2 linked regions of the Homo sapiens genome follow. The protein of the gene in region 1 interacts with the protein of each later gene in a pairwise test. Each region holds a gene or a part of one and is shown in the gene's direction. Other genes may lie near its edges.

The links. The genes of interacting proteins can lie anywhere in the genome.
Region 2: the proteins of HSPG2 (region 1) and FGFBP1 interact in a two-hybrid assay, tested with the Homo sapiens proteins (one study listed by BioGRID).

What each region holds. Positions count from the first base shown.
Region 1 is NC_000001.11:21,934,294-21,942,222, reverse strand, and holds the start of HSPG2 (basement membrane-specific heparan sulfate proteoglycan core protein isoform b precursor), read left to right. Parts: upstream 1-4,912; 5' UTR 4,913-5,005; coding exon 5,006-5,068; intron 5,069-7,929. UniProt on the Homo sapiens protein: Integral component of basement membranes. Component of the glomerular basement membrane (GBM), responsible for the fixed negative electrostatic membrane charge, and which provides a barrier which is both size- and charge-selective.
Region 2 is NC_000004.12:15,935,735-15,942,913, reverse strand, and holds the start of FGFBP1 (fibroblast growth factor-binding protein 1 precursor), read left to right. Parts: upstream 1-4,173; 5' UTR 4,174-4,227; intron 4,228-4,442; 5' UTR 4,443-4,663; intron 4,664-6,261; 5' UTR 6,262-6,281; coding exon 6,282-6,986; 3' UTR 6,987-7,179.

The sequences.
Region 1 (7,929 bases):
GAAAGCAATTGATAATGATGAAGGGTAGTGGGGAAACATCAAGTTGGGGCAGGGGGTCAAATACAAGAGCTTTCAGAAGATTCACGCTTCTGCCTGAGCTGGGAGAAGCGCACTTGTGCCTGGCCAGAGTTGAGAACAGCCCACAGGGAGGCAGAATGGGTGTGGTTGAGAATGGGAGTTTGTAGAATCAGACCGACATGGACATGAATCCTGGTTCTACCTCTTACTGACTGCATGACCTGGGCAAGCCACTTCATCCCCTGGGCCTCAGTTTTCCCAGCTGGAAAGGGAGGGGAATAATAAAATGTACTGCCTTGCCTGCTCCCCAGGGTTTATCTTTGTTCCAAGCACAAACCAGAACAGGGACATTTACACTGTGTGCCACGTTTGAACTAATGTCTTGTTCTTTCATTTAAGTAACAATTATCCAAATGCCAACTCTGTGCCACACACTGTGCTCTTCACAGGGGATATAATTGGGACCAAGACAGAAACAAGACCTTCATGCCCTCTGCCTTCATTATGCCTCATAATATTAAATGATCTTCCAAATAATTACAATGGTCAAAAATGCTACAAGAAAAGCATGGCGGGGGGGGCGCTGTGGGAAAGTGTGGTGGGGAACACGACCTCGCTTGGGAGGTCAGAGAAGATTTCTGTGGTCATGTGATGTTTGGACTCAATCTTAAGGGAGAGTAGAGTGAAGGGGGATGGGTGTTAACTGGGAAAAGCACTTAGGAGAGGGAACAGCATCTGCAAAGACTATGGTGGGGAAGGGCTGTGGCTGGATTGATGGGCAGGACTAGATCATGCCAGGCCTTGTGGGGTCCCCGCCCTCTCCATGGGAACTTTTGCTGCCTGCTTAGACCCACCTCCTGCCTCCTCTTCCTCCTCTTCTTCAGTACTATCTTCTTGTTTTTTCTCCTCCATCTCAATTCTCTTTCACACCAATTTCTGACTCTTCATTTTCACCCAAGGACATATTGTTACTCTATTAGCATTTGTTTTCCCACATGGACATAGAAACTCTCGTGGGCAGTGTTTAGTTTCACTATTGAATGAATATAGGGCCACAGCTAGCCTTACAGTGCCTTCACTCATATCAGCAAAAAGTACCCATTCTGGGCCGGGTGCAGTGGCTCACGCCTGTAATCCCAGCACTTTGGGAGGCCGAGACGGGTGGATCACTTGAGGTCAGGAGTTCGAGACCAGCCTGGCCAACATGATGAAACCCTGTCTCTACTAAAAATACAAAAAATTAGCCAGGTGTGGTGGCATGTGCCTGTAATCCCAGCTACTTGGGAGGCTGAGGCAGGAGAATCGCTTGAACCCAGGAGGCAGAGGTTGCAGTGAGTTGAGATCGTGCCACTGCACTCCAACCTGGGCAACAGAGCAAGATTCTGTCTCAAAAAGAAAAAAAAAAGTACCCATTCTGGGCAGATGTAGCCCCACAACAGGGCCCATTACAGTTCCTATTTACCCACTTGGCTGCACACCTTTGTTCAGTGAACAACCTGCGCAACTGTCCACTGCAGCCCTGAATGAATGAATGAATGGACAAAGGAATGTGATTAAGATGAATGATAAGCTCTCAGGCAGAGAAAAGATTTGGAATGGGAGTGGAAGCCAGAAGATGAGTCCTACTGAATTTGGAGGAGTGGACAGGTAAGCCACAAACTCCAGCTGCTGGTTCCAGAACCCCCAACACCTATTCTCAGAAGTCAAGCTGTTTGACTATTTCTGCCTATCCAAGCTGTTGTAGTCTCTCCGTGCCCAGGGAACCTTGTATGAGACTTGAGTTGTTTCTCTCCTCGAGTGTGACCAGCACCCTGAACTCTGTGTACATACAGTGAGATTATGGGCGCCTCCAAGGTTTTGCCAAGCCCAGAAGGCCTTGTGCCTGCTCCTCTTCTTAGCCATATGAGGAGATAGCCAGGCTCTAGACAAAGCAACTTGAGAGCATTTGCTAAAGATATCAAGGACTGCAAACTAAAACAGACCCAGGCAAATCCCTTAGTGGGAAGGAGAGGACACAGAATAAATAGGTGGATGACCAATCCTCCGCTGCTGGAGCCGCCCTGGAAGACTTTCTCAACATGCCATATATTCCTGCTTTCTGCGTGTCAGCCCAGCTCCTTCCAGTCCCTAGTCGGCCTTACCATCTCTTTCCTCAACCCCTTTGAGGAAGGAAGACTTATAGCTCTGGGTTAGTCTTGACCAAACATCTACAAAGGGTTGCTTGTTTCCCTTTTTTTCCCCCTTTGCTCATGAGCAAATCATCCAAGAAGCCAAAGCTCTGGTACTTAAAGGGCCCGAGGTAGGGAACAGACACTGAGGCAGCTCATGAAATGCGATTTGTCACGGATGCTGACAAATCCATGGACAGGCAAGGCCTTGGAAAAATCCTGCCACTAGGGCTGGCCACCTGCCAGCTCTGAAGTCAGTGGAGTTTTGAAGCCTTTCTCATCGGACAGGGAGTTTCCAAGTGCAAACCTGGTGTACTCTCCCCTCAAATGGGAGGTCCCTGGGGTGGCTGTGGAGGCTGCTCCTCTATCAGACCTCAGCTCCCCAAGGGCCAAGTCATGTCTCTCTCTTTAGATTGGGAGCACACCAGAAATAGTAATAAGAGAAATGGCTACCACTTATTTCATGCTTACCAAGTGTCTGAAATGGCTGTGTTTTTTAAAAGAAATATATTAATTTATCTTAATTCTCATAACAACACTAAGAGAGACGTCTTAACGTTATTCTCATTTTCTACATGCAGAGACTGAGACATGGAAGTTGAATCATGTGCTCAAGATTGCACGGCTAGGTGGTGGAGGCAGGATTCTCTATCAGACTGAGAACAATACCCGGACAGGGACTATTCTTCCCCACACCTCTATCAGATTAAGAGTTTACTGAGGGCCAAGATTGGGCGTCCCTCCTCTGTCCACCCCTATCTCCCTGTGCGGATCAGAGATAGACCTTATTCAGTGCTGTGCCTGGAGCCTGGGTTGGGGCCAGGCAGTTGGCCTGACTACCGTGGATGCAATTTCTGTTCTTTACAACTCTGAGCTGGTCCCACAGAAATATGCCCCACAGGGCATATTTTGGAGATATCTTTTGGAGATAGGGGATCTATCTGGGATGGGGGTCAGGATGCCAGTGTTTTTTCAATCCCCCAGATGCCTGGATGAGAGGCCCCAATGTGCTTGGGAGCCTGCGGACCCCTATCACAGGGAACATAGCTTCCGGAGCCAGGCCTGGTGCCGCCCAGTGAGCTGGGCATTTCCTTCTGTCCACAGCTCACCTCACTCCTGGCTGCAAACCCAGCCATGAGTTTCTGGAACCTAGCAACTCTCACAGGAAACAATGGAAACTTCAGTTTTATTCTCCTCCTCTATCATTACTCAAAAGGTTTTCCTCAAAGCTACACACACATAGTTTTCCTCTCCACCCATCAGCCTCGGGCTGCCCTGGAAATTTCAGGCAGAAGAGGGGAGCTGAAGAGTAGGCAGTGAATAGGTCTGGGGGCTTGGTGCTGTTTGCTGCCTGCGGTTGGGTCAGAGACAGATCATGGGGCTGTGATTTTACCACCCACCCGAGCATCTGTGATGGGGCTTTGGCAGGGTCTGTCTGTCTGGGCCTGAGTGTGTGAGTTGGTGTGGTTCTGGCTCTGGGGCTGTGATTTATGTGACTCAAAGTTGGTGTGTGAGTGATTTACATGGAAAATGGTGCAGGTGGGGTGGGCAGCTCAGTTCAGTACCCAGTGCCCACTATGAGGCACTGTGATTAGTGGGTGAGAACAGGTAAAAGATACAGGCTGAGGCTGGGTGCGGTGGCTCAATGCCTGTAATCCCATCACTTTGGGAGGGCAAGGCGGGCAGATCACAAGGTCAGGAGTTCGAGACCAGCCTGGCCAACATGGTAAAAACCCCATCTCTATTAAAAATACAAAAATTAGCCAGGCGTGGTGGCACGCCTGTAATCCCAGCTATTCAGGAGGCTGAGGCCGGAGAATTGCTTGAACCCGGAGGCGGAGGTTGCAGTGAGCCAAGATCCCACCACCGCACTCCAGCCTGGGGACAGAGCGAGACTCCTTCTCAAAAAAAAAAAAAAAAAAAAAAACAAGCTGGTAAGCATGTAGGCAATGATGTGGGCCTGTGTGTGAAATGTGCGTGCCTGCGAGGAATCTATGTGAAAAGGCGTCCTCCCGCTCCGTGACTTGTTGGGATGTATGCGTGAGTGAGGGGCTGAGTGTGGTGTGAGGGCTGTCTCCTGTGTCCCTGGTGGAGGTGAGAGTTTGGAAGCGAGTTAAGTGTGCATGTGAGCCGGTGAGGATTGTTGGTACTTCAGAGTTGGGTCCAGAGTGTGAAAGTGTTCCCGGGTAGCGCACAAGTGTGTTCGTGCAGTAAAGTTATGGTGTGAAGGTGTTCTTGGGTGTGGAAGTTGGCGTGCACGTGTGGCGCGGAGCGGCAGCTGCGTGCGTGTGAGCGTGGGAAGGAGATCCCGGGATCTTCAAAAGCTGCGCGAGTGGAGTCGGCCGTGCGGGGCGTGCAGGGGCGTGGAAGTCGGCGGCGCGCGCGGGGAAGCGGGGGAGCCGGGGATCGGGGAGGCGAGAGCGCCTGGCCCGGCGGCCCCATCCCATGCCCGGGCCCGGGCCCCCGGTCCCCCGCCCCGTCCCATCCCATACTCCAGGCCGGGTTTGGCGGGGAGCCGGGCCGGGCCGCGGCCCGCGCGGAGGGGGCTGGGGGCCCAGACAAAGGCCTAGTAGGCTGCGCGGCCGGCTGGGGCGAGCAGAGCCCGCGGCCCGGGGGCGGTCCGTGGGCGGGGCCTGGCGCTCCGGGGAGGGGCGGTTCGGGGGCGGGGCCGGCGCTGCGGGGGCGGGGCGGGCGGGGAGGAAAGGGGGCGGTGGGGAGAGGGCCGCGCTGTCCCGAGCTGGCCGGCGAGCGGGCGGCTGCGGGCGGCGCGGAGCGGGCGGCGCGGAGCGAGCGAGCGAGAGAGCGGCGCGGGCCGGGCCATGGGGTGGCGGGCGGCGGGCGCGCTGCTGCTGGCGCTGCTGCTGCACGGGCGGCTGCTGGCGGTGAGTGTGCGGGGCAGAGGGGCGGGGGGCGGGGGCGGAGGGGCTAGGGGCGCCCCGGTCCCGCTCGCCGCCTCCCGCCAACTTGGCTGGGGCGCCCAAGGCTGCGCGGCGGGGACTCTGGCCCGGGACGGCGGCGCCCGCCGGGGACCCCGGGCCGGCGCCACCCTGCGGCATGGGGCTAATCCAGGGGGGCCACCAGTCAGGACCCTTCGTGGGGCTGGGGGCGGGGCTGGCCCGTGTGGGAGCCCGTGGGTCTCTCGGCCACGTTGCCGAGTGCTGGAGTCTCGCTGGGCATGGTCCGGCCTACCATTCCTGGGGACCAGGAGGGGAAACTTTGAGCAGGGTGGGAACTTGGCAGGACGAGGGAACCCTTCTGCGCCAGCTTGGCAGAACGGCCACTCAGTGGTGATGGGGACCCTATGAGTCTCGCTGAAACTTTACCACACCGTCTATCACCTTGGGGAGCTTGGACCCAGGTAGGCACAAGCAAAACTTTTGGGACAGAACTGAAGCTTGTGTGGAACACCCACGGGCCTTGGAGTCATACAGCCGAAGAGTTGAATCAATCCCTGCCTTTCACTGAGTAACTGTGTGACCTGGGGCACGCTAGTTAACCTCTCTGAGGCCAGCCCCACGTGGGTCAAGGGAACTCAAAATGCACGGCCTCAAAATGCATAGCTGCAGGGCGTTGCTGGACTGCGTGGAATGAGCTGCAAAGTGCGTGGTGCGGGGATGCAGTGCACCCTTGGGGGACCCGAGTTCCCCAGCTTTCCTCTTCCCAGGTCTCCAAGAGGCAGGGAGAGGCCTGCCCTTGCAGTCTAGTCCCCTACTCTGAGCTTAGGTGGAGGAAAAGGGAATTCTACGGTCAGGAATCCCGAGGCTTAGAAGGCACTTGGCCAGCAGAGGCCCTGAGGACCTGAGTGAACTTGAGGAGGACTGGGTGGGGTCGGTGGGCAGGGAGCTAGTGGCAGATGTGGGTGGGGGCACATCTGGGGAGCCGAGCCTACCGTGGGGAGCCACAGAGCCACCCCCACTCTCTCCGAGGTGCTCCTAGGCAGTCCCCATACCTGCCTCCCTGTTCTCTGAGCCAAGAGAGGGACTTTTCTAACCAGGCTGGTGTTTACCCAGGAACTGCCTGCCTGGCCTCACCTTCCTGGCTTCATCGCACCTCTACCCTCCTGAGTCACTCGTCAAGCCCCCACCCAGACCTGGCTCCTCACTGCTCTTGCCCCACCCACCCAGCACTTCTCCTCCCCCATCCCCACTCTGGGCAGCCTCCTCTGTCGTCCTCCTGTTTCAGCCTCTCACCCCAAAATATTCAGCAGGGCCATCCAGTAGCTCCCTAGTCTTGACCTGAACTTGCACTCCTGGCACTGACTTTTACTTTTCCCAACGCACCAACCTAGCACGTGGGATGTTTTCCGAGGCCCAACAGTCTTTCCTGACCTTCCCCCAGCTCTGCCCCCGATGAGGGGCTCCTCCATGCCCGGGTGCGGTAGGATGGCGGTGGGTGGAGTTGTTTGCTGTGTGCATGAGGAATTTCCACAGACATTCCTGGACCGTGGCAGATCATCTCATTCACTTGTTCATTCAACAGATCATCACTGAGCGACATTCCATGGCAGTCACTGGGAGTACAGAGGTTCATTCTTTGGGCAGATATTTGCCATGCACCTACTGTGTGCCAGTGAACCAGTGAACCTCGTGTGGTGCTAGGGGCTGGGGTGGGTTGGACCAGCAAGGACAGGCCCTGTCTGTGCCTTCCCAGCACTCACAGGCTGGTGGGCGGTAATTTAGACAAATAAACAGGCAGCTCCAATCCTGTGGGATTAGAGAGCCTTCTCAGCAACACATGGAGGGTCGCTGTCCCACCCCAGGCTGCTGGTGGTGGGCTGGAAAGAGCTTGGCCCCTGAAGTCTCTTTATAAAATTCTTTTTAAAAAGTTTTTCAGGCCAGGCGCGGTGGCTCATGCCTGTAATCCCAGCACTTTGGGAGGCCACGGTGGGCGGATCACGAGGTCAGGAGTTTGAGACCAGCCTGGCCAACATAGTGAAACCCCATCTGTACTGAAAATACAAAAATTAGACGGGTGTGGTGGCGCATGCTTGTAATCCCAACTACTCGGGAGGCTGAGGCAGGAGAATCGCTTGAACCCAGGAGGCGGAGGTTGCAGTGAGCTGAGACCACACCATTGCACTCCAGCCTGGGTGACAGAGTGAGACTCCGCCTCAAAACAAACAAACAATAAAAAGTTTTTCGGGGCCAGGCGCGGTGGCACACGCCAGTAATCCCAGGACTTTGGGAGGCCGAGGCGAGCGGATCATGAGGTCAGGAGTTCAAGATCAGCCTGGCCAGCATAGTGAAACCCTGTCTCTACTAAAAATGCAAAAAGTTAGCCAGGCATGGTGGCACGTACCTGTAGTCCCAGCTACTCCGGAGGCTGAGGCAGGAGAATGGCGTTAACCCGGGAGGCGGAGCTTGCAGTGAGCCGAGATCGCGCCACTGCACTCCAGCCTGGGCGACAGAGCAAGACTCTGTCTCAAAAAAAAAAAAAGAGGGCATCACACTTTGTTGCCCAGGCTGGTCTCAAACTCCTGGCCTCAAGCGATCCTCTCGCCTCGGTCTCCTAAAGTGTTGGGATGACAGGCATAAGCCATCATGCCTGGCCTGTCTCTGAAGTCTTACAGACCCAAGTATGAGTCTCTGGGCTGCGGTTTCTGGCTGTGTGATCTGGGGCGAGTTCCTCTCTCTGAGCCTTAGTTTCCAAATCTGTACAATGGGGTTGAGGAGTTTGTTGCAAGTCAAAAATGAGATCAATTCCTAGCCCAGGCTCCCAGCACACCTTGGACCCTCTTTGCCTG
Region 2 (7,179 bases), on another chromosome or scaffold:
AGTAACGTTTGAAGGAAGGGTTGATTTTTGACAACTTTGGCCTGGCAATAAGTTTGGCACAGTTAAGACTTACCTCAGAACCAAATTGCACCCATTATATGAATAATCTCTGGTGACTGCATAAGTAGGGCCAGGCCTCTAGGTCAAGAAGCTATGTGGTAGTAACAGGCATGAGAGTAAAATCAGCTTTTGAACTTCAAATCCCCAGCTGGTGACCAGACATGCATTCAATTACCAGCCTTAGCCAGTGTGTTTTTACCAATTGTGTTCAGACTTCCTTTCACAATCCCAAAGAAAGTATTCATCATTTAAGTTTTGTGTGATCATGAGAAGAATAACATGATCCCAATCTAACCAGAACATGCCAGACAATTTCCAAATTAAGGACATTCTCAAAACACCTAACCAATTCTTCTGCAAACTGCCATAGTCATCAAAAACAAGCAACATCTGAGAAACAGCCATAGCCAAGAAGAACCCAAAAAGTCACGATCACTAAATGCAACCTGGTGTCATGTTGGGATCCTGGACAGAAAAAGAACATTAGGAGCTGAAAATTTAATTCTACACCAAACCTGCACATGCATGTTTATAGCAGCTCTATTCATCACTGTCAAAATTTAGAGGCATCCAAAATGTCCTAGATGAATGAACAAATGAACTCGGGTACATCCAATCAATGGAATTTTAGTAGTAGGTGAATGAATAAAGGGACTTGGATATATCCAATCTTTGGAATTTTATCAGCACTTAAGAGAAATGTGCTATCAAGTTATGAAAAACATAGAGAAACCTTAAGTGCATATTACTAGGTAAAAAAGTCAATATAAAAGGTTACATATTGTGTGATTCCAACTATTTGAAATTCTTAAAAAGATAAAACTGAGGAGACAGCAAAAGGATGAGCATTGCCTGGGGTTGTAGGGGATGGAGTGGTAAGTAGGCAGAACACAGAGAATTTTTAGGGCAGCTAAACTATTCTGTATGATACCATAGTGGTGGGTACCGTCATTATACCTTTCTTAGTTAATTGATATTATGCATGTCATTATACATTTCTCAAAACCCAAAGAATGTACAGCACTTAGAGTGAACCTAATGGAAATGATGGACATTGGGTGATAATGACATGTTAATGTAGGTTTATTACTTACAGCAAATGTACTACCCTGGTTCATGATGTTGAAGGTAGGGGAGACTGTGCCTGCGTGTGGGGAGGGGTATATGGGACTTTTGATACTTTCCACTCAATTGTGCTATGAGCATAAAACTACTCTAAAAAATAAAGTCTGTCAATAATAATAATAATAATAATAAAAACTAGAACAACAGGTAAATCCTAAGCAAGTCTGAATAAAGTATGGACTTCAATTGACAATAATGTATCAATGTTTGTCAGTTGTGACAAACGTACCATAGTAATGTAACAGGTAAATAGGGAACCCAGGTGAGAATTGGAATGATAACTATCTTTGCAATTCTCTGTAAACCTAAAATTATTCTAAAACTTTAAAAAAAAATTTAAAGGGAAGGTATGAAGGGGCAAAGAGAGGAGAATTCCACAATTTATCAGTGTATGCGTACACTGCCTCATTTGTGTTTAGAATGATAGCAGCGGCCTCCAGATAATTCTTCTCTAATTGTGTGTCAGACACTGTGCTTAGTCCCCCTAAGCCTTGCCTCCACATCTGTCCCATGAGGACCTGGGCCGACTTTCCTCCTGGGGTTCTTGTGCAATGGGCCTTTATGTACTCATCCCCAAGAATTACAGAGCCCCTCAGTGCTGGGAGCATGGGGAGGTGGAGGGGCCTGAAGTTACTGGAACCTGCTATGCACTGCGTGGCTGGGGCTCCATGTCCTCTGCAGTCTCCCCAGAGCCACTGGAAAAGGACATCGTTTCCTTAGTTCATGGAGATACGAAGAAAGCTTGGGAAACAGCCTTAGCACAGTGCCTGGCACGCTGTAAGCTCATTGGAGGAAGTGTGCCATTTCTCCCCGTGGACATTCTTAAAGATGTGGGTGGCATGCAGGGCGTCAGGAGCCAATGACACCAACAGAGAGGGGCTCGCATTGGAGCCTGGCCTTGAAGGATGAGGCGGTGTGTGCCAGGCAGAGAAGGAAGGGAAGGGGATCCCAAGTGCAGGGAACAGCAGAGGCAAAGGCAGGAAGTGGGCGCATGCATGGAGTATCTGCAAATGGTGGGACAGGGTTTCAGTGTGGCCAGATTGCAGTGTGTGTGTGCATGTGTGTGTGTGTCTGTCTCTGTGTGTGTGTCAGTGTCACTGTGTGTGATTCTGTGTGTGTGTGCCTATGAGTATGTGTGTGAATGTGTCTAGGTGTCAGTATGTGTGTGTCTCTGTGTGTCTATGAGTGTGGTGTCTTTGAGTGTGTTTGTGTGTGTTTGAGTGTGTCAGTGTGTGTTTGTGTGTGTCTTTGTATGTGTGTCAGTGTGTATGTGTATTTATGTGTCTGCGTGTGAGTACCTGGAAATGAGGTTGGAAGGGCAGGATGAGCCAAGGAGGTGACTGCCCCACAGCCTGCTCTGATGCTGTGCTGCTGAGTCTAGAAGGGAAAGAGCAAAGCAGACGCTGGGATGGGAGTCACAGGAAGGGGAAGGGCCACAAGGAGCCAGTGGGGAATGTGCAGTGTTACCTGGCAAAGCTCAGAGAAGCACTTCCCAGAAAGACCCCGGAGTCCACATGTTTCCTTGTAAATATGTTTTGTGTTCCAACTGCAATCTGCCTCCAGAAAGAATCTGCCTGCCTCCCAAGGATCAAGTAGAATTTTCCATTTTGTAGGAGACTCCCCTTGTTGAGCAAAGCAGCTTTGCCTTGCCTATGTCCAAATAATCCTCCAAAATACCGCATGAGAGAGCCTGTTCGTGGAGGTCAGGGCCTCAGCGGGGTGTTTGTGAGGATAGTGAGGACGGACCCCTGGGTGAGGCAATTTTAGGAGAGAGGCACACAGCTTCAGAAATGGCTTCTTCCAACAGATTCATGCAGAGACTGAGCCTCTGAGTAAATTGGTCAACATCTATAGCTATGACCACGGAATTCTCAAACAGGTGGATCGTTCATAAAATCCAAACACAGTTACAAGTTTTGGCCTGCATAGTGTTGAGCTACAGCTTTATTTTTAGAAAATTTTAATTAGCTGCCAACCAATTTCATATAAACACATCTGGATTTGGGGATGTCATTTTAAAAATCAGACAGTGTGACAATACTGAGCCTAATCCCTGCATTTTCTCAGTCAATTGGAGATGAGTGTTGACCTCTATGGAGGCAGAGACTCTCTAGTTTGCCACAGTCCCCATCACTCCCTATTGCCTTATCTCAAACCCAAAAGTCAGTTGCCATTTAATATCACACTAAACAATAGTTTTCTTATGGCTGAATTAAGGAAAAGTGAACAATTTCTTCTTCTGAAAATCTATGAAAGGTGAGGTGATAATATATAATGAGGGCCACATCTTCCCTGTAGAAGTGAGTTTCTTTTTAAATGCTGCATATGTAAATAACAAATGTCTGTTTTCAAAGTATACAACTTAAGACCCTGTCATGAGGCAAAACGATTCTGCTCCACTTTATGTTAACAGCTTAGCCCAGTAAAAATTTAGTATGCAGCTATAAAGGAGACGTTGTTATTGTCAGCACACTGCAAATGGATGATGGGAGAGGCTAAGTGGTTTGGGCATAGCACTCAGCTAAACACATGCTGTGGCCAGGATTCCACCTGGGTCATTCTGGTGTGGGACTGTGCCTGTAGCAGGCAGGGCAGCCTGAGCTCTCTGAATGAGACCTGAAGGTAAGTATTTACAACAGTAATCTTATATTAAAAATTCCCTCTTTACCAGCCTCTCAGAGCCTGGTAGAATTCCCTGATAAAAAAGAGGGAATTTTTAATGTAAATTTCCCTGCCTCTAGAATTAGGGTATCCTCTGCTTATGTAGTAACTTCAGATGGAAAAAGGAACTCAGACACTACGAAAACTTCGGCAACTTCAGTCACCCATTCAACAAAGATTTATTGAGAGTGGCAGGCAGGAAGAGATCAGACCATGGATGTAGAGAATCTCACTTTTAATTTTGAGATGTTCCTTTTCCTGCCTCTGTGAACTTGGACAAGCTCTTACATATCTCCAGAACCAATTCCTGCTTTTGTAAAAGGGGAGGAATCATTGCACTCCCTACTAGAGCGGATGTGATGAGGGAAAAGGAGAACTCAGGTAAAATGGGCTCAGTAGTTTGGCAGCTCGGATCATGTCATTATAGTTATTTTACTCCTCCATAGACATCACTGCTGGGGTCCTCTCCCCATCAAGGAGGGTCACTGTGAGGCTGAGTTGTCCTCCTATCCTGGCCACAGGGTGGACAGGGAAGGGCCTAGAGGAAGCGTTTGATGGCATGCAGGTAACCCCCCTTTTCACTGGATTACATCCAGCACTTTCCCTGCAGGAACCGGCTCCCTCGGAGGGGCGTGGCTGGGAGGAGCTGTGAGTAACGTGCCACAGTGTTGTAAAAACCCAGTGAGTGTTATAAAAACCCAGTCAGCCTGGCTCCTGTTGAATAGTCTACCCCCCTTGCACTCTACCTGACACAGCTGCAGCCTGCAATTCACTCGCACTGCCTGGGATTGCACTGGATCCGTGTGCTCAGAACAAGGTAAGAGCCTCGCTCCTTTAACAGCTTTATTACCTGCTGCCACTTCTCACTCCACCAAGGGCCTGGAGTTCCTTGGGCCTGCATTCCATCATGGGCAGGTGGGGGCTGAGCCCCAGGGCCGTGAGAAATGACTGGGTGTTTTTCTGGCATATCCAGTCTCCTCTTCACCATTTATTGCTGTTCTCTGCCCTTTTGTGATTGTCTTTCTCCTTCTTAACCCTAGAAGATGGCCAACTTCTAGGGTAGAAATCAGATCAGGACCATTTCCTGGGTCTGCCTCTTTTTATAAAAAATTCTGTGTTTTGTTTTAAATGGAGCACAAATAATACAAATCATCTTATCATTATGTGTTATATGAAACTAAATTGTCATTGTTCATAGTTGTTTTTCTTATTCTTTGGCAATGTTTTTAAAGGGCAGAGTAAATGTGAAAAGCAAAAAGTGATCAACCAGGGGTGACAGAAAGGAATAAGGAGATTGATCTGGCTACCCATACCAGCTTTGAACTTGCCCACTATGAGATCCTGAGCAATTTACTTACCTGTCTGAGCCTTAAGAGTCAGAGCTGTCACCTGGGATGACATATTAATAGCTACCTGGAAGAGCTCTTGTGTGGATTTCACAAGGTGGGAATCAAACCCTAGACCAGTACTTAGCACACAGGAGGTGTCATATAGAAACTGACTTCTCTTCTTCTGTTAAGCATGGGTTTTTATTGTACACATGATCAGATTCATGCAGTTCAGTGTGACGTTGGTGTTCATCCTATTGATTCAATGATTTCTCATGATCCTTGTCTTCGATCTTGTAGTGTGAACTATCTGGTTGAAATTCACCTCTCTCCACCCTGATTCACTTTGCCCAGGCAAATCAGACAACCACCCCACCTCACACCTTTCCTTAAACTCTTACTTCCCCACAAAAAGCTCCCCCACCCCCACAACCCCACCCACCCCACCCAAACCCCAGGCATGTTCAACTCTGGGTCAACATCACCTTTCATGATGCTTACCACATCCTTTCTCATTTTGGGCATCTGTCATGTCTTTTCTCATTTTGGGCATCTGTGTCCATATGGAGTCATGAGATAGAAATCCAGCCCTTTGGAGCTGAAAGTTTGGAGCAGTAACTTGTTTCATATCAGAAACAGAGATGACGGGATAGATTCCCTGATCAATGCTATTTAAATTCTCCCAAAGAGTGGTCTCTAAGCTCTTTCAAATCTGAGGCTTTCTCAATCATGGTGATTTCTTCAACACCTAGTCTGGTGGGGGGCATATAGTAGGTGCTCAGTAAATGCTTGTTGAATGAGTGAATGAAAGAGTGAGGAGTGAGCAGATGCAGGAGTTAATGAGTGAATAAATGATAAATGAGAGTTCGTGAGGCTCCAAAGAGTGGTACTTTTGTGACACTCAAGACTCAAGTCAAGTGGAAATGTGAGTAGACAGGCTGTTTGTCTAGTGACTCCAGGAGCCAGAAGCGTTCTTGGTCTACTCTGAAATCATGTAGGCACCTGTCAGGGTAGGGGGAGGCCAGCGTGTAGTCCTGCACAGCTGAACTGCTGCCTGCCACTGACTCACTTGCCTTTTGTCAAACAGGTGAACGCCCAGCTGCAGCCATGAAGATCTGTAGCCTCACCCTGCTCTCCTTCCTCCTACTGGCTGCTCAGGTGCTCCTGGTGGAGGGGAAAAAAAAAGTGAAGAATGGACTTCACAGCAAAGTGGTCTCAGAACAAAAGGACACTCTGGGCAACACCCAGATTAAGCAGAAAAGCAGGCCCGGGAACAAAGGCAAGTTTGTCACCAAAGACCAAGCCAACTGCAGATGGGCTGCTACTGAGCAGGAGGAGGGCATCTCTCTCAAGGTTGAGTGCACTCAATTGGACCATGAATTTTCCTGTGTCTTTGCTGGCAATCCAACCTCATGCCTAAAGCTCAAGGATGAGAGAGTCTATTGGAAACAAGTTGCCCGGAATCTGCGCTCACAGAAAGACATCTGTAGATATTCCAAGACAGCTGTGAAAACCAGAGTGTGCAGAAAGGATTTTCCAGAATCCAGTCTTAAGCTAGTCAGCTCCACTCTATTTGGGAACACAAAGCCCAGGAAGGAGAAAACAGAGATGTCCCCCAGGGAGCACATCAAAGGCAAAGAGACCACCCCCTCTAGCCTAGCAGTGACCCAGACCATGGCCACCAAAGCTCCCGAGTGTGTGGAGGACCCAGATATGGCAAACCAGAGGAAGACTGCCCTGGAGTTCTGTGGAGAGACTTGGAGCTCTCTCTGCACATTCTTCCTCAGCATAGTGCAGGACACGTCATGCTAATGAGGTCAAAAGAGAACGGGTTCCCTTAAGAGATGTCATGTCGTAAGTCCCTCTGTATACTTTAAAGCTCTCTACAGTCCCCCCAAAATATGAACTTTTGTGCTTAGTGAGTGCAACGAAATATTTAAACAAGTTTTGTATTTTTTGCTTTTGTGTTTTGGAATTTGCCTTATTTTTCTTGGATGCGATGTTC